Linked DNA regions of Homo sapiens. The protein of the gene in region 7 purifies or fractionates together with the protein of the main gene of each other region. This does not show direct contact. Each region holds a gene or a part of one and is shown on either strand. Other genes may lie near its edges. The genes, in order: REC8, NPTN, SF3A1, RRP1B, EFTUD2, ERF and XAB2.

Region 1 (2,838 bases), on a different chromosome or scaffold from region 7:
TAGATGTGGCTCCCGAGCTTCTGCGTATCTGCAGCCTCATTCTGGCTGACAACAAGATCCCACCAGGTGAGGGTAGGAGTCATAGGCAGGGGCTTGCGGGAGGCTGGGAGTGGCAGGGCTCAGAGAGCCTGGGGCAGCGAGGCTTTAGGAGCCCCGACCTTTCTCCCTCCCTCTCCACCCAGACACCAAGGCCGCACTGTTGCTGCTCCTGACGTTCCTGGCCAAACAGCACACCGACAGCTTTCAAGCAGCTCTGGGCTCACTGCCTGTTGACAAGGCTCAGGAGCTCCAGGCTGTACTGGGCCTCTCCTAGACTGCAGGCTGCAGCCAGTCCAGAGAGAATAGAGCCTGCCCAGGCCTTAAGACCACCTCTCAGCCCAGTTCAGTTCTGCCTTACCAAAGATTCTGAGACTCATACCCATTTGGAGCCAGCCCCACTTGCTGCCTTACAGGGCTGTCCCTGAGGCTGGATCTGTTACAAATGAGTCATGACATCATACTGTAATAAAAGCAGCTTGTTTTCTGCTTGAACAATAGCTCTGAGAGCAAGAAGGCTGGAAATGCACATTCAGAAATGAGGTAAGCAGGACCCAGTGAGGCACGACGTGGTTTACTAGAAGTGGCCGGTTTCCTGGCAGCTTTGTAAATGGACTCTAACCTCAGTGGAATCTGGGCCCCGGCTGGATCAGGAGGCGACCATATGGCTTTTCTTGTTTCACGTGAAGAATCTGTTGCGCTGAGAGCACTGGTCAAGAGGCGAGGAGAGGGCAGGTCGGGGGAGTCCCTGTACGGGCCTCTGGTCTCTGTGTCCCTGCCCCACATACACACACACACATGCATACACTCACCCAGGAGCAGGTAGAAGACCCGGGCAGCCATCCTGCGGGGGCTGAGAGGTGACACCAGGCTGCTGAAGTCGGGCTCCCTGTTAGCCTGCAGCTCCAGTGCCACTGCCCTATAGGGATCAAGAACCATTAGCAGAGGCTTCAGCCCGGGTCCACCCCATCAAGGTGCCACCTCCCTGGTACCTGTGCACTGCTTCCAGTGAGAGCAGCTCGAGCTCTGGGGGCAGCACCAAAGGCATCTCCATGGGCACCTCAGGGAGTTCAGGCACCACGGGCAATGCAGGAGCTTCTGGCGCCTCCACCTCAGGCCAGGCCCTAGGAGGACATGAGAGAGTAGGGAAGGTGGCAGCTGTGACAGTGACAAGGGGCATACCCATCCCAGCAGCTGTTTCCACCACCTGGCCAAGGGCTGTGGGCCCTGGCTCCCACGGAGCCTGGCCGCTTACCACCGTTCTTCTGGTGGGATGAGGCTGATGCGGGACTTCTCCTCTTCAGCTGCCTCTAGGGAGATCTCTGTTGGGGGAGGAAAGGCGCTAGTGGGTGTCTGCTTGGGTGGCAGTTAGGGCCTTGTGGCCACCTGGTGTAAGTAGATGGCAGAGCCGTGCGGTGACTTGTTAAAAGCACATAGGTGGGAGAGCTGAGGAGGACCAGTCCGTGCTTCCTTATGTCACACACACACGCCTTCACTCATAAAACAGCTTCAGCAGTTGGGATACTAGTTTCCTGGGACAGTGGTTAGGGTGTGGTCCCACTGCGCCTCTTCTCTAGGTGCTTACCTAAAGACACCATAAGGGGAACACTGGGCTCCAGGGCCTCCCTCGGGACCTGGGGATGGGAGAAGTAGAACTAAGACCCCAAGCATCTGGGACTTGGGCCTCAGAAGGCACAAGGCCAGTGAGCCTGTGCTGTTGGCTCTCATAGCAGGAGAGGGCAGCCAGCTGGTCAGGCAGACCCTGGCACTGGGGCGATGCAGTAAACAGGTGGTGCAGTTACCTCAATCTCACTTGGAACTTCAATCTTTCTCCTTTCCTCCTCAGCGGCTGCCTCCTCAGGCAGCTCTCGCCTGAGGGCTTTTGGGGGTGGCTGGGCACAATGGGTCCAGAGACCCAGTAGTTCAGGGGGTAGCCAGCCAGCTGTGGACAAGAGGGTAGTAGGCACGGGGTTTGAGGCGTGAGGAGCACCAGGAATGAGGAATTGGTTTTGAGGATACTTCGTGCCCAACCCCCACCATTCTTACAGAGAGTTGGGGTTCTGAACAACTCCGCAGGGCCTCTGATGGTCCTCTCGGGCGGCTGCACCATAGGCTGTGTAGTGGGGGAAGGTCAGAAGCCCCATTATAAAGCAGCCACTCCTCAGGGCCCCTTTGCCTCTTTGCAATGCACTGTTCTGGGGCTTCTGGACTTCCCCAGCTTTTGCGCTCATGACCCTGCCTGCCCTGCTCATTGCTAAAAGAAGGACTTTTTAACCTGGTGCCCATGGGTATGACAGGTGGGTCACTAAAGGAGCATGAAGAGTTGTATATGTGCAAACCCACATCGCCTGCATTTTCTGGAGAATGGAGGAGATTTTTCATCAAGTTCCCAATCCTCCCCCCACCCACCTGAGGAGTTTGGAAGGCTCAGCCTGCATGTGCCCCTGGTCATCCCTGCCTCCCTCCCTTCCCCGGCAAAGCCTGGGCTGCACTCACACATTCCCAGCAGTGGGCTCTGGTTTGCAGTTGTTCCTGGAATTTCTCCGGGGAGATCTGAGTCTCCTTGTCCCAGAACAGTAACCGGCGACGACGGCGGCGGCGAGGAGGTGGGGGGACTGGGGGCCTCCTCTGTTGAGTGGGGAGGGCAGGTAGGGGCAAGGCTGCCCATTACTCCTTTTCCTGTCATTCTGGTGGACTGCTAACAGGACCCCACACCCGCCCCTAGAGGAACCTGGAGAGGGCTTGTGCGGGGTCTCCATGCACTTGAGCAGCTCATACCTTGCATAAGGGTACCCATCTGGG
Region 2 (4,125 bases), on a different chromosome or scaffold from region 7:
TCCAGATGAAGGTACATGCCAATCTTTTTGTCACTCACACACCTGAGGTTTTGAAGGACATAGTTTTCACTTCAATCAACAACATGCCATAGTGGTCCTGGCCTTTGCTAGAAATTTTGGTCTGGAACCACCAGCTGTTCAGTTCCTGTTGAAAGTTCCAGACCACTTTAGCTTGATAGAGATTGCGAGGGTCTCCTTCTTCCAGGTCCTCCAAACCCTCTCTTTAAATCAAGTCAGGCCACCAGGACTGTTTACTTGGCCCCTCAGAGTTTCCACAGACACTCCCAGGACGTCTGCTGTGAGTCAGGGATGAGCTAAGCCATAGAAATTCCTTTGCCAACCACAAGCCCTGAGGGTAGTACAAAAAATACCCCTAAAAAGAGCATTTCCCAAACTTCTATGCAAACAGTAGTAACCACACTGCCAATCACCCTCCAGAGTGCTTTGCTAGATCCTTTCCTATGGGGCCATTTGACCCTTCCTCACTCCTCTGCTAGCCTAGGCAGTGCACTCCATGAGGACGGGGACTACCTTTTCATGTGGGTTTCACTATGTGCCTGGCACACAGCACGTTCTCAATAAATGTTTTCCGCATTAAGACGCTTCTTAGGAGTCTTCATGTAAGTTCATACACGACTTCCTTGTAGAATTGTGTCAATGAACATGCAATTAGGCTAGCTGAACTTCAGGCCCTGAGAGTCTATGAAGCTAAAATAAGGCCCAGATGTGGGGTGGGAGGGGGAGTAGGCAGAGGCGGCAAAGGAGGACATTTCAGGCAAAGGGAGCAGATGTCCAGGCAGGAAAGCACAAGGTAACGGGGGCACAGGGGGCGCACCACTTTTCCTGGAAGGAAAAAACAGCAGATGAGAGAAGGAGGTTGGAGCCAGTTACCAGTAGAGGTCTATGTTCAAAGTCCAGAAGGAAGAAACAGCAGGACGGGGACAAAGAGAGGAAGGAGGAAAGGAGGCACGGTGTATGAAACTCTGTAGCCAAGAGCGCTAACAAATGAAAGGCAGGATGGGTGGAGGAAATGTACTGTGTTCCAAAGCTTCCTCTTATTTATGGGTGCTCCCGGGCCACAGAGGAGTAAACTGAAGGACTTCCCAGCTCCCCACTGCCCAGAGAGCTAGCGGAGTCCCGCCTCGCCCCGTCACATGGCCAGAGGCGCCCTCGGCACGTGACCTACCTCGCGCTAGGCCAATCAGCCTCTGCAGGGGCGGGGCCACCGAGTCCGCGGGGCGGGAGTCTCCGTCGGAGCCGCCTCTTCTCGCGATCCTTGCGGCGGTCGCTCCTCAGCCGCCCACGACCCGGAGCGAAGGTCTCGCGAGGCCTGGGCGCTGCGGCGGCAGGAGGAGGACGGGGAAGGACGGAGCCGAGCCGCGGCTGCCTCCCTCGCTCACTCCCTCGCGCACTCGCCCGCCCCCTCCCTCCCTCCCCTCCCTTCCCCGGCCCCGGCTCTGGCCCCGGCCCATTCGCTGTTGGGTCTTCTGCTAGGGAGGATGTCGGGTTCGTCGCTGCCCAGCGCCCTGGCCCTCTCGCTGTTGCTGGTCTCTGGCTCCCTCCTCCCAGGGCCAGGCGCCGCTCAGAACGGTAAGCGGGGCGCCGGGGGCGGGCCGGGCGGGGGTTGAGGGGCGCCGGGGCCGGAGGGGGCCCGGCTCTGGCCTGAGGAGACGCTGGAGCTCGGGGAAGGGGGCCGAGTGGGCGTCTGAGGGGCTGCGGGTCCGAGAGGAGGTACCGGCTGCGGGTTTGAGGAGGCGCGGGTGTGAGGACCGGAGGCTCCTATCCGAGCGGCGGGGGCGTCCGGGGTGAGCCCGAGGTGTTGCCCACTCGGAGGCTCCACGTCGTGGGGCTCGTCGTGCCGGGTCGGCGAGGGGACACGGAGGAAGCCGACGTGGGGAGCTGGAGTAGCGGGGGCGGATGAGGAGGGGGCGCAGCTCTTAGGGAGGGTGGCACAAGACCGGCGTTTGTGTTCCGGGCGACGGGGATGGTGGTGTCCGTCAGGCCCCCCGGGAGCTGGGGTCGTCCAGGATTCTACTGAGGCCCCGTAGGACTGGTGACATCCTTAAAAATAAGGGGGAAATTGGGGGGAAGAGAGTCCTGAGGAACACTAATGGTGAGCTGAGTACTAGAGACCAAAGGAGGGGGTAAAGAATCAGGGAACCTTGGATCTAGGGATAGAGGGAAGGTGGGTGGGAAGATGAGGGAGTGGGTTGACTGCAGTAGGGGACCTGGAGAGAGAAGCAGCAGTGTCTCCAAATGAGCTGGGGGAAGAGGGCTGGGTTTGCTAAAGAGGGTGGAGTGCTGGGCATTCTAGGGTAGTGGTTGGGAGAGCAAAAAGGAGTTTCTAAATAAGGAGAGGAAAATGAGCAGAGGATGGAGGGAAAGGGTTGGAACTGAGGTGGGGGAATATTTATTAGAGAAGTAAGGAGGCCTGGGTATAGAGATGGGGGTGGGGGAAGACGAAAAATAAGGGAAGGGAGTAAAATGCAGGAAGTCGGGGGTGTAATGTTGGTTTGCAGTGTGGAGGATAAATTAGGGAAGGGAGGAGTTGGGATGTGGCAAATGCTGTATGATATTGGTCGGGCCTTTGGGAAAACAGGGACACATAGCTGCAACTAATTGCAGTGGTGGGATTGAGGGCAGTGACTGGCGACAGGGAGATGGGGAAGTGGATTTTTGAGATTTAAAAGTTTCAAGACAGAAGAGACGTTATTTCCGAGGAACATGAAAGTGGCCCCTGGGAGGTGGTACAGTAGAAAGCAGAGAATTACTGGGTTTTGAATTGAAGCTCCTTTGAGAAGATGGAGAAGTGGTGGGGAATCATGGGCATAGGGACCTAAACAGAGCAGATTCTGATTGAAGACATGTGTTAGCATTCAGCTGCTGAATTGATCTTTCACAAGTGAGTCTAGGATTGTGAACCTGTTTCTGCCCTTGTGGAAACAGCCATTAAGAGGTTAAAGAATATTTTTTCTGTGAAGGAATTTATGAGAAGTCAGTACTGGAGAGTGAACTATAAATTATTTTTGCTAATCTTTCATTGTTTATTGTTAGGCCAGAACAATTTATGATTACTCTTATTAGAGAGGCTGCAATTTAAATTTTAAAAAATCAGTGATAGAGCCAGTGGAGTTTTTTGAGAAACTGGGTTTAAAATGCTGAATGTTAGAGTTTGTTTCATTATTCCTAAAACGAATAAAGGATTGACAATATCCATCAGTTAAATATGTGTTCGTAGTACCAAATTTTATGTGTGCTTCATGGCCTTGGATATCACTGCAGGGGTCAGGAAGGAAACATTTTTTCTGTCTCTAGCATTGAATATGCTAAGTGTATTGGGTATTTTTCCTGTTTTCCTCTAAGCATGAGTCCACTGTGGAAGGCAGGGTAGAGTTAGTCTTATTTGTCTTATCAGTTTTTCGACTGTGTCAACATGACTTAAAGAAGCCTAATGCTAATTTTAGCTATTCAGTTTATGGTAATAGCATAGTTTCATTTTGCACAATAGGTGAGAGATTCTTGATCTTAACATGTTTAATCTCTGCTGGCTTAGCTTTTTTCCAATGATTTATAATACGGTAAAATTGTAGTTTCTTAGCAACTAAAGCAAGGTTTCTGGATAGGCCTATAAAGACTCATCTGTCTGCTCAGTGATATGTGTTCTAAATACAGCATAGAACGGCCTTTCCCTTGAAATGAGCTTGAATTCAGTCACATGACATGACCGATGAAATGAAGCTGAGCTGCTGGTTGACCCAAATGAATGTAAATTTAATTCAAGGAAGAGATGGCTATTTTTGAGTTTGAGTTCCTATAGTTATGGATGCCATTTTATAGCTTTCTATATAACATGTCTTATTATAATATTCAAGCTTTCAGCTGGTAATAAATAGCCCTGCAGTGATCTGACTTCATGTCATGGAGTTTGTGTTTTCTTACAGTGCTTTCAAAAAGGGATACCTTGCTTGTGCATGATGTTGAAATGTTAGAAATGTTAGATTTTCTATTTAAATGACTGGAGAAAAAAACTCACAAGTATCTCTGAATTGGGAATGTAGTAGTTTAGATTGAATATAGATGTTTTTCAAAAGGCATTTGTTTCATTATTCCTAAAATGAAGAATTT
Region 3 (3,500 bases), on a different chromosome or scaffold from region 7:
CCTGTCTTCATGGAGTTTCTAGTCTAGTGAGGAGGAGTCAAGTGCATTGTCAGTGTCTGTTACATGGTGCTAAATACTACAGAGAGAAAGCAGGGAGCAGAAATAGAGGGAGGTGGGGCAAGTACGCTGCGGTTCTGAATAGGATAGTCAGGGGGGACCTGCGTAGTGTTTTTGAAAGGATGAGAGCAGGTCAGTGTCATGAAAGCAGCCGTCTCATACTGACCGTGTTCTGGGTAATCGGCTAGTGCTTTGCATGCTTTCCTGCTAATCCTCGAAGCCACCTTTTTAAGTTCATGGTGCCAACTTTGAGTGGTGGTGCCATTATTTTGGAGAAGGAAATCAAGTTACTGAGGTTAAGTAACTTGCCCTAAGTCCCACAGCCAAGTGGAGCTGGGATTGGGACACAGAATCCCATGCTTCCTCATCTCCTGTGCTTTATCACAGGCCCAGGAAGGCTGCCTCTTTGTACTGCGTTGTAAAGCACTGACAGTTGCTTTAACTCTTCTGTATTTCAGATCTTGATTCCACCCAAAGGTTTATTTTCAAAGCTCAAGAAAGAGGCTGAAAACCCCCGAGAAGTTTTGGATCAGGTAAACTGAATAGCATTTCTTGCAACCAGTTACTGGTGGTTGGTTCTGTTTTATGTCTGAAAACAGTCTCTGAGGCAGGACCTTGTTATGTTCCAGTCATGGGAATGGTGGGAGAAAAGGCTTTGTTGGCTACAAAGGCCAAAGAAACCTGGAGTCCGGATGCTTCCCAACATACCACAACTTTCTGCTTTGCTCTCAGCCTCAATATATCTCCCTCTTTTCCACTCTAGCTAGAAGACAGAAGGCCAGCTCCCAAGCAGATCAGAGGGTGGAATTTTCATTCTGTCCCAACTCTGCACCTGGGTGGAACCAGGTGCAAATGCCATAGTTTGGAACCATACTTCCATTCTGTTCCGAAGGAGGCGCTGACTTTGATGAAAGCCCTGGAGGTGGTAGCCTCATCAGGAGCAGACCCTGCTTCAGCGTAGCACCAAGCTGTTTCCCATCTCTGCAGGTGTGTTACCGAGTGGAATGGGCCAAATTCCAGGAACGTGAGAGGAAGAAGGAAGAAGAGGAGAAGGAGAAGGAGCGGGTGGCCTATGCTCAGATCGACTGGCATGATTTTGTGGTGGTGGAAACAGTGGACTTCCAACCCAATGAGCAAGGTAGGTCTGTGAGGAGTGACTCCAGATGGGGAGCCAGGAACTCAGACTTCCCGGGAAACCTGGTGCAGGTGTTCCCAGAGAGCAGTAGAATCTCTCAGAGGGCTTTATCAGTGCTGTCTCCTCCCTGCTCCCAAAAGACTTCAGTTCTACCACTTTGCCCAACTTAGATTCAATACGTACTTGCCAGACCCTAGATGGGCCTCTGGAGATAGCTGGAGAGAAAACAGACATGGCCCCAGCCCTTGGGGAGCTCAGACAGGGCAAATAGGTGGGTCTTTGATAAGGAATACCTTTGCCTCTGGCTCACCCTCTAGGGAACTTCCCTCCCCCCACCACGCCAGAGGAGCTGGGGGCCCGAATCCTCATTCAGGAGCGCTATGAAAAGTTTGGGGAGAGTGAGGAAGTTGAGATGGAGGTCGAGTCTGATGAGGAGGATGACAAACAGGAGAAGGCGGAGGAGCCTCCTTCCCAGCTGGACCAGGACACCCAAGTACAAGATATGGATGAGGTAAGCTGCTGGGCAGGCCTGCAGGATGACCTTTTCCCCTGAAGCCCCAGGAGGTCGAAGTGCTCTCCACCAGTCAGATCCAGCTCCCCTGTGAGCCTTGAAAGGAGGCGTGGGTCCTGAACAAGGCCATACAGCTGCCCAAGTCCAGGCAGCACAGAGCCTCTTTCCAGCTCCGGCAACAAAGATTCATTCATAGGCAAGGATCTAAAAGCTGTGCTGACCTGTTCTGTGGCCGCCTCCCTGGCCCGGACAGCCTGCTCTCACTGCCTCGTGCCAGCCCTCAGGGAACTCACTGCATTACCCTGTTCTGTTTTGAGCTCTCAGCTGGGCTCCAAGCTCCCAGAGCTTTTCTAAATGTAGCCCACGCTTCCTTTCAGGCATCCCTACCCCCTTCAAGCCAGGCCCTCTAAGCAGGCATGGAGTCTCCAGAACCAGACTGTTCTCCCCCACTCGGAAATAATTTGTGCACAGCCTGAGAAGAAAGGGCCCCTGTCTGTGGGAAATGACTTTTTCTCTCCCTCCCAGCATTGCTGTGTGAGCAGCTACCATTGATTGGCGACTCGCCGCCCCCACCCCTCGCCCCCTTGGCACTGTCCCCCCCCGGCATGTTAAGTGCCCTTGGCCTCTTGGGACTGCCTGGTGCCAGCTGCTGGAAATGCCTGGGAGGAGTGCTAGGACCGTGGCCTCAGCACTCCCATTCATGCTGTGAGGAAGCAGCTTGGCCTGCTGCCGGCTGGCCTCAGCTGCCCTGGGAGGCTTAGCACATGGACGCTGGCTGGCAGAGGCCAAGGCTCCTTGCCACCCAGAGACCTGCCAGGCTCAGCTACAGGGAGGTGGCCTCAGCCCCTCTCTGAGTCCTGCCATTGCTTTGCTTTTCAGGGTTCAGATGATGAAGAAGAAGGGCAGAAAGTGCCCCCACCCCCAGAGACACCCATGCCTCCACCTCTGCCCCCAACTCCAGACCAAGTCATTGTCCGCAAGGATTATGATCCCAAAGGTAGGGAGGGCCTGCTTCCCAACCCTCGGGCTGCCCAGGAAGTCCTGTGTGCCCTCATGTGTTCCTCACACCCGTCTTTCTAGGAGGGCTTGAGGTGCAGCTTATTGTAAAAGCATTGCAAGCCCGTCTGTTACAGGTTTCATGGTGGGAACAGGGCCCAGTCATCTCTGGTGCCCTAGTGCCTTTCACAGTGCCAGGTACAAGAGTGGCACTGAATAGATGCCTTGATGAATGATGCACGCATGAAATACCACCCTCTTAACTCAGGTGGCTGCCCACCAGTGTTCTTACTGAAACATCTGTTTCCTTTTAGCCTCCAAGCCCTTGCCTCCAGCCCCTGCTCCAGATGAGTATCTTGTGTCCCCCATTACTGGGGAGAAGATCCCCGCCAGCAAAATGCAGGAACACATGCGCATTGGACTTCTTGACCCTCGCTGGCTGGAGCAGCGGGATCGCTCCATCCGTGAGAAGCAGAGCGATGATGAGGTGTACGCACCAGGTGAGGTGGGGGTTCCAGGAGAGCCCATGGTAGTCTCCGAATTACAGCCATCTTCTTCTAAGCAAACATAGAAAGCAACAATTGAGGTCAACAAAAGCTTTTGAGGAGAGTTGCACTCTATGATATTGCAAGAGAACTCCCCACTTTCCAGAAGAACTCCCCATAGAAATTCCCCAAAGGCAGACACTGAAGGAGATGCCATGTGCCTGTTGACATCCCAGAGCAAGCTCTGGCTTTAGCTGGAAGGGCTTCCTGTGGCTGTTTAGAAGGAGAGCATTGATGGCTGGAGTACCATGAGCTC
Region 4 (3,500 bases), on a different chromosome or scaffold from region 7:
TGGACAGGCTCAGAGGGCCACAGTGGGGCTCCAGGCCCGGCATGGGAAGCACTGTCAGCTCAAGCCCATCTGTGCCCTTGTGGTGAAATGTGCTGTGCCACTCTGGGGAGGGTGCGTACCTGGACGGCAGGGCCTGGAGGGTGGGTGGCAGTGCTGCTCTTGGCTCTTCTGAAGAACAGGGGCTTTGGTAAGAAGGGGGTGTCAAACTTCACAAAGTCGCTCTCTGCCCTCAGCTTCTGCTTCTTCAGGGAACTGCAAGTCCCACTGCTTCCCTACGTGAGCGAGGGGTGAGAAGCGGAGGAGGGGTCAGACGACAGAGCCTCCTGTGCTGCCCACACACACAGGAGGGGAAGGCAGAGCCCCAGGCAGATCCAGCCCACCCGACGGCCCGCGGTCTTCCGCACCGCACTTGCAGACAGCCCTTCCATTCGGCAGAGCTCAGGCTTCACGCACAACACGACCGCTATCATGGCACCATGCCAAGAGGGGCGATGAAAACGCCTCGTCAGAGTAAGGACCCACTTTTATCTTCATCTTCAAAATGGGGATTTTGGCCTTTCAAAGCCGATCTGTTAATAAGATCGACTCTCCCATTTGTAGCTGAATCGTCACTGCGCTGGCAGTCTGGTGTGGAGGACAGTGATGCCCATGTGGGGCTGTGGGTCCCTCACAGGCAGGCCCAGGACACTCATTGCGTGTGCAGCAACTGACAGCCACCCAGAGAGAGACCGGGTCTCGTACTTGGCTCTCAGAGGTGTGGGCAGCCCAGTGCCGCTGCCGACACACGGGTGGCTCCGGCAGGTTCAAGTGTGCCGCCTGGAGGGCAGGGAAGCCCGAGGAGCTTCTCCTGTGCGCCTTCCCTGTGCCATGACAGATGGCAGGGGAAAGCTTCCCTTGACCCTGGGACTTATTGAGCAACACCCCATCCTCTTTACAATAGGCTGCCAGGGGCCTGAGACGACAGCAAGAAAGGCAATGTCTCTGGCCCTCTTAGTGAGGGAGCAGCGCTGAGGGTACGAGGGGCAGGCTGCAGTCCAGGGAGGAGATGGCGGCACTGTGAGGTAGGAGAGACTCGAGGCTAGAAATGGGCCTCCTGCCGTCCAGCTCAGTGCACTGCTGCCCCTGGGTAAGGCTTTCCTGACCATAAACTCACTCACTAGCCACTTGCAGACACTCTTAGCCCCAAACCAGCGCTTCACCAGGTCCACACATGTCCACTTAAACAAGAGATGTCATAATCTCCGCAAAGCGGTGTGTGCAAACCAAGAGGTGACCAAGGTGCGCAAACTCTGTGAAGGGCAGAGTTATTTTCTGCTTTACAGACCGCAGGTCTCTGTCTCTACCACTCCCCTCTGCCGCTGCAGCATGAAAGTGGCCACAGACCTGCACATACAAGTGGATGTGGCTCTGTTGCAGTGACACTACGTTTGCCGGCCCTGGCCTGGAAGCCCAGGGCGCCCAGAGGTGGTGTGAAAAGCGGATCAGGGCCAGGCGCGGGGGCTCTCGCCTGTAATCCCGCACTTTGGGAGGCCGAGGCAGGTGGACTGCTTGAGCCCAGCCTGGGCAACAAGGCAAAACTCTGTCTCTACAAAAATAACAAAAATTAGCTGGGCATGGTGATGTGTATCTGTAATTCCAGCTACTTGGGAGGCAGAGGCAGAAGAATCGCTTGAACCTGGGAGGTGGAGGTTGCAGTGAGCCGAGATTGTGCCACCGCACTCCAGCCTGGGTGACACAGCCAGACCCAAGACCAGATCAACAGCTTGGTTCCTCATTTATATCTGGCTCTAGAAATCAAAGTGGAAGGAAAGTCTTTCCATTAAGAAGATAAGTGGTCCTGCTAGTGAAGTTTCTTGAGCTGGGGGGTAGGGGGGAAGCTAAGAAAAGAAAAGAATATAGAAAAGAAGGTGAGTGAAGCAAGAGAATTTTGGGCTTCCTCTTTTGCCAAAGGGGCCTGGACTGGCCATGCGCTGATGAAGAAAACCAGACCTGCCTTTGACAGAGGCCTAGACTGGCCTGAACACGCCTGGGGCAGGAGTGCCTGGCCCAAGGGATAACTTTCCCAGCTTGGAGTGGGCCCTCCCGAACCCAAGCATGTGGCCTAAGGGAGTGAAGGTGGCCGATGAGGAGGACCGAAGTACTGGTCACCTGTGATTTCCTCCTTAGTGAAGGCTGTTATGAACACACCCTATTCTAACTGCTGCTGAGTCCAGAGGCCTGGCCGCCAGCCCCCACCCTTCCTCTCAGGAGGCAGTGGAGCCCCATGGACGCGAGTGAGTGCCTCTGTGGCGAGCTGGCCTGTGGGTGCTCCCACCTTACCAGAGCCTGGGGTTGCCCAGCTTCGGACTCCAGCACCCCGTTGTGCTCCACCAAGTTTGACATCACTCTCATTTTCTTCCTCTTTTTCAAACTTGCTGTTTTCTGGCTGGGCAGGCCACAGAGCTCCAGGCTGCCGGGCCCTGCCTTCTTTTTCTGCAGCCTCCTGCGCTGGGGCAGCGTGGTGTGGCTGTTCGCCCCCTCTGCGGGGCCTGTGGGAGGGCCTTCCTGCTGCAATGGAGGCCAGGCCGGCGTGGACAGGCCACTGCCATTGACGGGCACAACTCCAAGTTTCCGCTTCCTTTTTAGGAGTTGGGCTCCACCTGTCGGGGACCCTCTAGGTCCCTGAGGATGACTGCCACTCGGGCCACTCTGAGACATGTCCTCTGGGGGCAACACTGCTGATTCCAACATTTCCCTGTGGGCCCTCGGGCTCTTCTTCCGTGGCCGTTTCCTTTTATTGTGCATGGGGACGGCTGGAGGATGCTCGGAGCCACTCTCCTCCCCAGTGCTGGACGTGGCCTCTGCACCTGGCTCGGCCACACGTGCCTTCAGGGCTTTCAGCCCAGAGGCCTCGGGCTCCCTGCCCCGGTTCTGTTCCAGGGATGGGGCTGCACCCCCTGGGCCTGGATTTTCAGGCTGCAGGTGGTGCTTCTTCTTCTTCTTCCTTCTTCTCTTTTGAAGACTGCTTTCACTGTCCTCTTCCTCTACACAAAAGACTCTGCTTCCTAAAAAGACAGAAACCCATCAACAAGCACCCAGTGCCAGCTGGGCCAGAGTCCTGCTGGCGATTCTCAGACAGTATGACTGGCGGACGCAATTTCCTGACATTCTACCACGAGGAAAGTTCCTGTCTCCCTTGAGGTACTTGGTGCGCCCACTACCTTTGTCGTCTGGTCCCACTTCCTCCATCCCCAACTGTGACTGGAAGCCTTCCTTCTGTCCGTTTATAAACACATATGGAACTGAAATAGTCCCATTTCCACTAATTTTAGGGCTCAAGGGTAAAAACCATAGATCTCGAGTGGTCATCAAACAGCCGCCCCCCAGTGCTCCCTGCAGCTCCTGCTTCCCTGCAGAGGTGCCCTGGAGAGCAGGCGGACGTGAGCGGGGTGAGGTGGGGACGCGGCTCCACCAAAAACAGCACAACACTTGGAAAACCGCCTTTACCTCTCAGCCATTAA
Region 5 (2,499 bases), on a different chromosome or scaffold from region 7:
AAACTCCATCTCAAAAAAATAATAATAAGTAATAAATTTAGGAATAAAATAAATAAGAAGAGTCCTGCTTCTGGGCCTGAATCTTCTGGGAATTCTGCCTGGGCCATCTGAAATTCCTTTGCCTTTTAGATTGTGCCTGGTGATCCCCTGGACAAGAGCATTGTCATCCGCCCCTTGGAGCCACAGCCAGCTCCTCACCTGGCCCGGGAATTCATGATCAAAACCCGCCGTAGGAAGGTATGTCTCCCTTGGGCCTGTTGCCATCCCTCAACCCCCCAGGACTCTCAGAAGCAGGATCTCTCTCTCTTTCTTTTGGCCCCTTTTCCTAAGGGACACTTTTCCAATGTAGAGATATGATCTGTATACTCCTTAGGCAACCAAACCTGGGCCCCAGTCTCGTTGGGAAAGGAGAGCCTTATCCTCCCATGTGATAGTACCCTAAAGGCAGGGCTCCTGAAACACCACCACCTACATTCCAGCCACCACTAGCCTCCCCACTGAACACAGGTCTTGGATAGTCTCCTTGCTTAGTCTGCGACCACCTCGGGCTTTCTTATATTTGCCCCATTCCCTGCAGGGCCTCAGTGAAGATGTGAGCATCAGCAAATTCTTCGATGATCCTATGTTGCTGGAACTTGCCAAACAGGATGTTGTGCTCAATTACCCCATGTGAGTGCGTGGACTCCTGGGAGCTCCTGCTCCCTACAGTGGGCTGCAACTCCTGTACTTGAAGCTGAGACCTCATATGACGTGGCCTTCGTGTTGTCAGAGAGTGTCTGGAAGCTGCTGTTGCCATCTTGAACAACTCACCAACCTCCAACCCAGAGCCCCAGTGAGAGAGGAGCATTTGGCCTCCTGCTTCCTTCTGTGGCCTCTGCCGGGCTCCATTCCCAAGGAAAAGAGAGGAGCTTGGGCTCACAGAAAGAGAAGGGGATGAAACCCCAAGGGGCCCTATCTTTGGGATTTACATGGAATTTTATTTTCTACAAGTTTGACCTTAGCCATGGTTTGCAAGTGAACAGAACATTCTGACCTCTGTCTTGCTCTGCTCCTTTCATCCTCGTCTCCCCTGCCCCGTCTGGTGCTTACATTCTGAATATATGTCATCTCCCAAGAGGCTTCACTGCCTCTGCTTCCAGCTGCAGCCTCCTTCCTGCCTGGGTCCCCAGGGAAGCCGCCTGCCTTTTAATTCAGTGTTCCCATGAGCGCCAAGGCCCCATTATTGCCCCCTTGCTCCCACTCCATGCTGCTTCTGGGTGGAACCTAAGATGGCTTGGGAGTTGTTGGGTTCCTGCGATCAGAAGTCTACCCCACCACCTCCTCAGGAAACTGCTGCCTCCCCTAAGAATCTTCCTTGCCCTGGAGTAGGGGGCCAGAGCACTTTGATTTCCAGCCATTTACTCCAAGTCCTCTCCCCAGCTACCACCAGTCCCTTACTCTGTTCTCCCCCAGTGAAAAAGAGTCTGTTGATTTTCCTCAAAACTGCTTTATTAGGAATGTACCAGGGATTGAGTTAGGGGAGTTGGACAGCCCCGGCTCCTATAGGAGTCCTACTTCTCTCCAGCATCCTGTGCCATCCTCTTGACGTAATCGCTGTACATTGTGTACACAGCACCTGTGTGAGAGAAAAGAAATAATGCCCCTTGGCATCAAACCCTTCACCCGTCCTCTGGCTCTCAGGCGTCCTAGGGGTTCACCTCTAGCTGCTCCCTTGAGAGTCCAGCTTCCCGCTCATCTTTCTGCCCCAGGTCCCAACAGCTGCTTCAAGCATCTGACCACACAACCTGGGGAAACCACTTATCTGACAGTTCACGAAACACTTTCACATGTATTGTGTATCTGAGAAACCTCACAGCAGCCTGCAAGGTAGGCAGGCCAGGGGTGGTTATTGTCATGTTACACATCAGGAAACTGAGGCTCAGTGAGAAAGATTTGTCCACTGTCACACAGTTAGCAAGTGGCTGTCTGCTTTTTAATCTCAAGAGGAAGAGAAATTCAACATCTGTTCTGTTGCATGATTTTTCTCACCCCTAGGGCAAACTGTCATGAGACACTGTCCCCACAGGCCTGGGACAGGAGCCTAAACAGGGAAGATGGCTCAGTATAGGGGCTTCACCAAGCATGTGATGTGGAGCCCAGAACAGGAGAACTTAATTCACAGTCCTTTTTTTTTTTTTTTTTTTTTTTTGAGACAGAGTCTCACTCTGTCACCCGGGCTGGAGTGCAGTGGCGGATCTCAGCCCACTGTAGCCTCCGCCTCCCAGGTTCAAGCAATTCTCCTGCCGAAGCCTCCAGAGTAGCTGGGACTAAAGGCACCTGCCGCCACGCCCAGCTAATTTTTGTATTTTTAGTAGATATGGGGTTTCACCATGTTGGCCAGGATGGTCTCTCTCTCCAGACCTCATGATCTGCCCGCCTTGGCCTCCCAAAGTGTTGAGATTACAGGCGTGAACCACCGCGCCCAGCCAAGCACAGTCCTTTTAATTGTTGGGACTTAAA
Region 6 (2,530 bases), about 35 Mb from region 7:
GGAAGATGAAGATGAAGAGCAGGCTGGTGGTGAGCGGGGGTCCTCGGTGGGGGACAGCACCTCGGAGGGCGTTGAGGGAGGGAAGCGGAAGTGGCTACCACCCGACGGCACTGGCGGGGCACTCTGGGGCACTGCACCCCCTGGCAGAAGGGAGACAGTGTCAAGGCCCCTGGCCTAGCCTGAAGGGGCATGTAGACCCTCTCCACACCAACCATCCCTGGTACTCACCAGCCAACCCCACATCAATGAATGGGTAATTGACCAGCACCAGTTTGTTGAAATTGAACTTGTAGGTGAACCGTTTCCCCTTGGTCTTGTGCAGAATGCGCTTGTTATAGTAATAGCTGTGGGTACAGAAATGCCATTGGGAAGGTCAGGTACGTGGGACCCAGGTCTAGACTCCACACCTTAACACGCACTTAGGTGTGGTTCCCAAAGGCCAACTGAGGAACGTAGGCCACAAAAGACAAATCAAGTGCCCAGAGGGTGGGTACCAGCTCTCTCCTCACATCTAAGGCAGGACTAGAGGATCCACTGGTGACTGTAATCTCTCCTCAGGATACGTCTGTGTTACCAAGGGGCTCAGGGAAGGGCTGGGAGTGGCCCAAGGTCACACAGCTAGGATTTGGCAAAGCCAGGGGTCAGACCCAATGCTTGTTCCCACAGGCAAGGGGCTGTGCAACCCCGGGGGGGCACTCCACATGTGCTCAGGGGTCCCCAGCCCGTCCTCACCGCAGGGCCCGGCTCAGCTTGTCGTAATTCATCTGGGGCTTGCACTTGCGAACGCCCCACAGCCGGGCCACCTCATCAGGGTCTTTGATGACGAATTCCCCGTAGTCCCCCTGCCAGGCAATGACGCCCTGGTACTCCTCCTTCCGCAGCAGCTCCAGGATAAAGTGCCACAGCTGGATCTGCCTTGAGCCAGGGGACGACTCTGGCTTGTAGGCCCAATCCGGGAAGGCAAACCCTGGGGACGGGAGGCAGGGAGTGGCCTGGGGTCAGGCTGCCAAGTCCAGGGCTCTGGGTCCCATCCCAGGGTCCACCTCTGCCCTGCCTTCAACATGGGGAAATCTGTCTCACCTCAGCCAAGTCAAGATCTGATTTAAGAGAAGACAGTGCGTGTCTGTCTGTCTGCATGTGAGGGGCTAGACAGGAGCTGGGGGGGAGGGGAAGCTGGAGCCCGCTCCAGCGACACCGGGAGAAACAGGAAACCGTCGGCGGTGGGTCCCGGGGCCAGTGCCAGGGGGCCAGGCACCAAGCCAGGCTGGCGGGCAGGGCTGCCAGTGGGGGAGGGGCAGGAAGGGGCACACGTGGCCAGCCGGGTTGGGGTACAGCCCCCCAGCTTACCCCCACTCCCATTCAGAGCCAGTTGCACCACCCCAGCTCCTCGGATGTCCTCCTTAGAAACATGCACTGTCTCCTCCGAAGACCCAACAGAGCCCCTACTCCCAACCCCAAGACCTGAGAGGAAGATTTTTTTTTTTTTTCTTAAAAGGACCAGGAGGGGTGGGGTGACTCGGTTGCCGATGAGGTCAGCGCTTGCACACACAGAGGCTTCTGTCTTCCCTGGAGAGTGAAACCCAGACTGTCTGAGAGGCCCCCCAAGCCCTGGACCCTCTGAGCTACACTGCCCTCCCCAGACCCAGGCATCCAGGCCCCACCTGGCTGGAGGGCCCAGCCCAGGCCTGGAGCTTGAGCAGGCACCCTGGAGCTGTCACCCTCTTCCCACTTCTGCCTTCTCATCTTCAGCTCCTTCCCTGCCCACCTGCCTGCCCACCCCCAGCATTAACCTTGGGTAGAGGTTGGCGGTGGGCTGGCTGGTCTCTGGAGGGGGTGGGCAGCCTGGGGTGGGGGGTGGGGGGTGGGGGGACTGCGGTTGTTGTCATTTCCCAACAACAGGGGCCATCAATAATTCAGCACCAGGCAGCCGGTAATGGAGGGGTGGGAGGAGGGAAAGGGGAGGAAGGGAAGGAGTGGGGAGGCAGAGCAGGGTCCCTGGTGCCACTAGAGAGAGAAGGCCAAGGTGGCCAGCTAAAGATGGGCGGCTCCCAAATCCAGTCAGGCTGCAGGGGTCAATCCGCCTCCCTTGGCCCCAGCTCAAACAGGTACCAACAAGGCCTCCAGGCAACACATCCACCCTCAAAGACTCCACCCAAGTCTGGAATCCAACAAGGGATCCTTCCCCTTGGGAATCCAGGGAATCAGTAGTTCCTGCTCCCACAGGGACCACCCCCTCCAAATCCAGAGCTCACTGTAGGCCCCCAACTCCTGCCCAGACTGGGCTGCAGTACCACATAGCCCCCGGAGTCCCTGCCCCATTCAGATATATCCCAGCCTTCCACCAGCCCCTCAGGGTGCCAGGGATATGACCTCCAGCTGTTCACAGACCAGCACCAACAGCCCCTGTTCCATTTAAAAGTGACAGCCTTTGACAACCCCTTCCAGAGACCCCAGAGCACCATCGCTCTCTTGGGAATCTAGGTGTTCAACCCATTATCCTCACCCTTCTAGAGAATCCAGATCACAAGGT
Region 7 (3,500 bases):
AACCCAAAAAGTCCACAGCTGGTCTAGTCAGGACTGAGGCTGGACCAGTGGAGCCAAGGCAGGACCCACAGGGGGTTGAGCCTAACCCAGTGGGGCCAAGGCTAGACCAGTAGGAACCGGGCTGGACCAGTGGGGCTGAGGCTGGTTTGACAGGGCTTGCTTTTGCCCAAGACACTCATAAATGGGTGGGGGGGGACGCCCCGAAGCCACTGAATCGGGAGGTGGGCGTAGCCCTGCCACCCCACTGACTGCCTGAGGGGTGGCTCGGTCCCCAGCTGAGTCCTGAGAGTGCAGAGGAGTACATTGAGTACCTCAAGTCAAGTGACCGGCTGGATGAGGCCGCCCAGCGCCTGGCCACCGTGGTGAACGACGAGCGTTTCGTGTCTAAGGCCGGCAAGTCCAACTACCAGGTGGGCCTGCCGGGAGCCGGCAACTGGGTGGGAGGGCCACCCCCTCCATGACTGAGCCTGAGACTCTCCCCCACTGCCCCATGCCCTGCAGCTGTGGCACGAGCTGTGCGACCTCATCTCCCAGAATCCGGACAAGGTACAGTCCCTCAATGTGGACGCCATCATCCGCGGGGGCCTCACCCGCTTCACCGACCAGCTGGGCAAGCTCTGGTGTTCTCTCGCCGACTACTACATCCGCAGCGGCCATTTCGAGAAGGTGCATGCTGGCACACGGGGCTCTGGGTTCGGGGCGGGGTCTCCCTCCGACACTCGGGGACACATGTTGACACATGCACAGGCAGAAAACATGCCATTTATGGCTGGGTGTGGTGGCTCACACCTGTCATCCCAGCACTTTGGGAGGCCGAGGCGGTAGGATCACTTGAGGTCAGCAGTTCAAGACCAGCCTGGCCAACATGGTGAAACCCCATCACTACTAAAAATACAAAAATTAGTCAGACATGGTGGTGCGCGCCTGTAATCCCAGCTACTCGGGAGGCTGAGGCAGGAGAATCGCTTGAACTTGGGAGGTGGAGGTTGCCGTGAGCTGCGATCGCGCCACGGAAGTCCAGCCTGGGTGGCAGAGCGAGACTCCATCTCAAAAAAAAAAAAAAAAAAAAAAAGTGCCATTTTTGACAGACATGCATATCCCTGCACACGATTACTATCCTGCTGAGGGTGGGGGAGCACTCCTGCCCGCAGGCACGTCAGCCTTGGAGTCAGCCACATTTGCGTTCAGGGTTCACCCTCTGGCTCTGCGGCCTTGGCCCCACTAAGGTGGGGTGTCTTCATTTGTAAAATCAGGGTGACAGTTACTGCCTGTCACCAATCAGCTCAGTGACGCAGGCACAGCACTGAGGAGGTACGTGGTGTGAGGGCCACTCCCTCAGGGGTTAGCTGACTGTGGCTCTTGGCAGGCAGTGGAGTGGCAAGCTCAGGGGATGGCCTGGGGGCAGGTGGGTGCAGAGGGGGCCAGAGCCGAGAGCGGGGAGGCTCAGGAACCCAGGGAAGATAGGTTGGGAGCCTCGAAAGCCAAACGGGCTGGCCATGCTCCTGGCTGGGGGAGCCGCCAGTGGGGTGTGGGCGGTATGCGCTTCGCAGCGCCCCTTCCAGGGGCACGTGTAGGCCAAGGCTGTCGGAGGCAGCAGGGCAAGACCCGTCAGGGCTGGGTAGAGAGAGGGGACCTGAGCTGGGGTGGGCGAGCCAGGTGGAGGACAGGCGGGCTGGGGAAGAGGGTCAGGCAAGCGAGAGGGACGCTTTGGAGCAAATTCTGAGGCCTCGGAGGATGAGCTGAGGCGAGGGTCCCTGCAGGGTGGACCCATAGGCGCTGGGGGGTTTTTGGCCACCTATTGGGTGCCAAGTGCTTCACACATGTGTCTCAGTCGAGCCCTGAGGTCACTGTGTGCAAAGGGCAGTCACCCAGTTTACTGAGGAGGTCCTGAAGCTCCCAAGACCACCCTGGCAGTGCAGGGCAGGGCGGGGGTGAGAAGGCTCCACGGAGGCTCTGTCCTGGGGTCACTACCCAGAGGTGCTGGATGCGTCACTACCCAGAAGGCCCCCAGGGGTTCCACATTGAGGCTGGTGCTAAGAGTGCTGCTGCCTGTCCCCTGCGCCACTTTCCTCTCACCTCCCCTTCCCTGGGTCCCCACAGGCTCGGGACGTGTACGAGGAGGCCATCCGGACAGTGATGACCGTGCGGGACTTCACACAGGTGTTTGACAGCTACGCCCAGTTCGAGGAGAGCATGATCGCTGCAAAGATGGAGACCGCCTCGGAGCTGGGGCGCGAGGAGGAGGGTGAGCCTCTGGGGGCCCCGGCTGGTGGGGAGAGAGCTGAGTGGACATTAGCGGTAGGGGCGGGACACATCTCAGGTGAGGCAGCCCTGGGAGGCTCAGCTGGGGGCCAGCAGGGAAGGAGGCTGAGTGGATGCAGGGGGTGTGGGGGTCTTGAAGGAGCCAGGAATGGGGACACTTCTCAGGCCTGGGCCAGAGCCTGGCAGGGCAGGAGGGCTAGGGGAACAGTGGGGGTAGGAGGGGGTATCCACAGTACCTGGGGCTGGGGGTGGGGCTCAGGTGGACACCCGAGCTGAGTGTCTAGGGCCCAGAGCACTTGGCTGGGGGCTGGAGCGGAGTGAGGGTGGGGAGTGGAGGCGGTGGCATCCGGGGACCTGCATCCTGGGTCTCCGCCCCTGACAAACATGTTCGCGGCTCCCAGATGATGTGGACCTGGAGCTGCGCCTGGCCCGCTTCGAGCAGCTCATCAGCCGGCGGCCCCTGCTCCTCAACAGCGTCTTGCTGCGCCAAAACCCACACCACGTGCACGAGTGGCACAAGCGTGTCGCCCTGCACCAGGGCCGCCCCCGGGAGGTACATGAAGCCTGCCCCAGTCCTACCCCTGAGGGCCAGTTTCCTGCAGAACTGGGGAGCCACCCACCTTCACCCATAATGTCACCTTCTAGGGGCCTGACTTTGCTTAGTAGGTCCAATTCCACCCCTGTTCTTGGGGTTCTCCTCCTGCCCGAGCCCCGCCCCTCAGAGCCACAGTCCCTCCTGGCCCCACCCCTTGGAGGGCCACAGCTCCCTCGTGGCCCCGCCCCTTGGAGGGTCACAGCTCTCTCCTGGCCCCGCCCCTTAGGGCCACAGCTCTCTCTTGGTCCTGACCATTGTCAAGGGCCATAGTTCGTTTCTGGCCTCTCCCGACAGGGGCCACAGCACCCTCCAGGCCCCACCCCTCAGAGCCACAGCTCTGCCCCGACCGTCATCTGCAGGGTCCTGAGTCCTATATGACCTCCTCCCTCCTGTCCCCAGATCATCAACACCTACACAGAGGCTGTGCAGACGGTGGACCCCTTCAAGGCCACAGGCAAGCCCCACACTCTGTGGGTGGCGTTTGCCAAGTTTTATGAGGACAACGGACAGCTGGACGATGTGAGCACCCTGTTGCGTGTGCCTGTGTGTTCATGCATGTGTGTGTGCTTGTATATGTGTGCATGTATGTGTGTGTACATATTTGTGCATGGATGTGTGCACGTGTGTGTGCATGTGCATTTGG

Evidence for each region.
Region 1: the proteins of XAB2 (region 7) and REC8 purify together in Homo sapiens (affinity purification with mass spectrometry; one large-scale study listed by BioGRID and IntAct). This does not show direct contact.
Region 2: the proteins of XAB2 (region 7) and NPTN purify together in Homo sapiens (co-immunoprecipitation; one large-scale study listed by IntAct). This does not show direct contact.
Region 3: the proteins of XAB2 (region 7) and SF3A1 fractionate together in Homo sapiens (co-fractionation; 3 studies listed by BioGRID and IntAct, with this or other methods). This does not show direct contact.
Region 4: the proteins of XAB2 (region 7) and RRP1B purify together in Homo sapiens (co-immunoprecipitation; one large-scale study listed by IntAct). This does not show direct contact.
Region 5: the proteins of XAB2 (region 7) and EFTUD2 purify together in Homo sapiens (affinity purification with mass spectrometry; 2 studies listed by BioGRID and IntAct, with this or other methods). This does not show direct contact.
Region 6: the proteins of XAB2 (region 7) and ERF purify together in Homo sapiens (co-immunoprecipitation; one large-scale study listed by IntAct). This does not show direct contact.

Annotation. Positions count from the first base shown.
Region 1 is NC_000014.9:24,177,917-24,180,754, reverse strand, and holds the end of REC8 (meiotic recombination protein REC8 homolog), read right to left. Parts: coding exon of another isoform or gene 2,815-2,838; exon of another isoform or gene 2,665-2,814; coding exon 2,533-2,664; intron 2,150-2,532; coding exon 2,083-2,149; intron 1,979-2,082; coding exon 1,839-1,978; intron 1,671-1,838; coding exon 1,622-1,670; intron 1,359-1,621; coding exon 1,292-1,358; intron 1,161-1,291; coding exon 1,029-1,160; intron 956-1,028; coding exon 849-955; coding exon of another isoform or gene 746-848; coding exon 660-745; downstream 1-659. Other genes in the region: IPO4 (importin-4), read left to right, coding at 1-66, 183-313. UniProt on the Homo sapiens protein: Required during meiosis for separation of sister chromatids and homologous chromosomes.
Region 2 is NC_000015.10:73,630,590-73,634,714, reverse strand, and holds the start of NPTN (neuroplastin isoform b precursor), read left to right. Parts: upstream 1-1,325; 5' UTR 1,326-1,499; coding exon 1,500-1,590; intron 1,591-4,125. UniProt on the Homo sapiens protein: Probable homophilic and heterophilic cell adhesion molecule involved in long term potentiation at hippocampal excitatory synapses through activation of p38MAPK. May also regulate neurite outgrowth by activating the FGFR1 signaling pathway.
Region 3 is NC_000022.11:30,339,895-30,343,394, reverse strand, and holds part of SF3A1 (splicing factor 3A subunit 1), read left to right. Parts: intron 1-515; coding exon 516-590; intron 591-1,044; coding exon 1,045-1,195; intron 1,196-1,509; coding exon 1,510-1,703; intron 1,704-2,582; coding exon 2,583-2,700; intron 2,701-3,013; coding exon 3,014-3,199; intron 3,200-3,500. UniProt on the Homo sapiens protein: Component of the 17S U2 SnRNP complex of the spliceosome, a large ribonucleoprotein complex that removes introns from transcribed pre-mRNAs.
Region 4 is NC_000021.9:43,687,060-43,690,559, reverse strand, and holds part of RRP1B (ribosomal RNA processing protein 1 homolog B), read right to left. Parts: intron 3,045-3,500; coding exon 2,320-3,044; intron 273-2,319; coding exon 120-272; intron 1-119. UniProt on the Homo sapiens protein: Positively regulates DNA damage-induced apoptosis by acting as a transcriptional coactivator of proapoptotic target genes of the transcriptional activator E2F1.
Region 5 is NC_000017.11:44,849,448-44,851,946, reverse strand, and holds the end of EFTUD2 (116 kDa U5 small nuclear ribonucleoprotein component), read left to right. Parts: intron 1-129; coding exon 130-237; intron 238-577; coding exon 578-673; 3' UTR 674-1,550; coding exon of another isoform or gene 1,551-1,615; 3' UTR 1,616-1,999; downstream 2,000-2,499. Other genes in the region: HIGD1B (HIG1 domain family member 1B), read right to left, coding at 1,551-1,615. UniProt on the Homo sapiens protein: Required for pre-mRNA splicing as component of the spliceosome, including pre-catalytic, catalytic and post-catalytic spliceosomal complexes. Component of the U5 snRNP and the U4/U6-U5 tri-snRNP complex, a building block of the spliceosome.
Region 6 is NC_000019.10:42,249,599-42,252,128, forward strand, and holds part of ERF (ETS domain-containing transcription factor ERF), read right to left. Parts: intron 1,843-2,530; exon of another isoform or gene 1,791-1,842; intron 1,567-1,790; exon of another isoform or gene 1,348-1,566; intron 968-1,347; coding exon 733-967; intron 345-732; coding exon 229-344; intron 141-228; coding exon 1-140. UniProt on the Homo sapiens protein: Potent transcriptional repressor that binds to the H1 element of the Ets2 promoter. May regulate other genes involved in cellular proliferation.
Region 7 is NC_000019.10:7,623,046-7,626,545, reverse strand, and holds part of XAB2 (pre-mRNA-splicing factor SYF1), read left to right. Parts: intron 1-275; coding exon 276-410; intron 411-501; coding exon 502-666; intron 667-2,100; coding exon 2,101-2,245; intron 2,246-2,663; coding exon 2,664-2,815; intron 2,816-3,256; coding exon 3,257-3,376; intron 3,377-3,500. UniProt on the Homo sapiens protein: Involved in pre-mRNA splicing as component of the spliceosome. Involved in transcription-coupled repair (TCR), transcription and pre-mRNA splicing.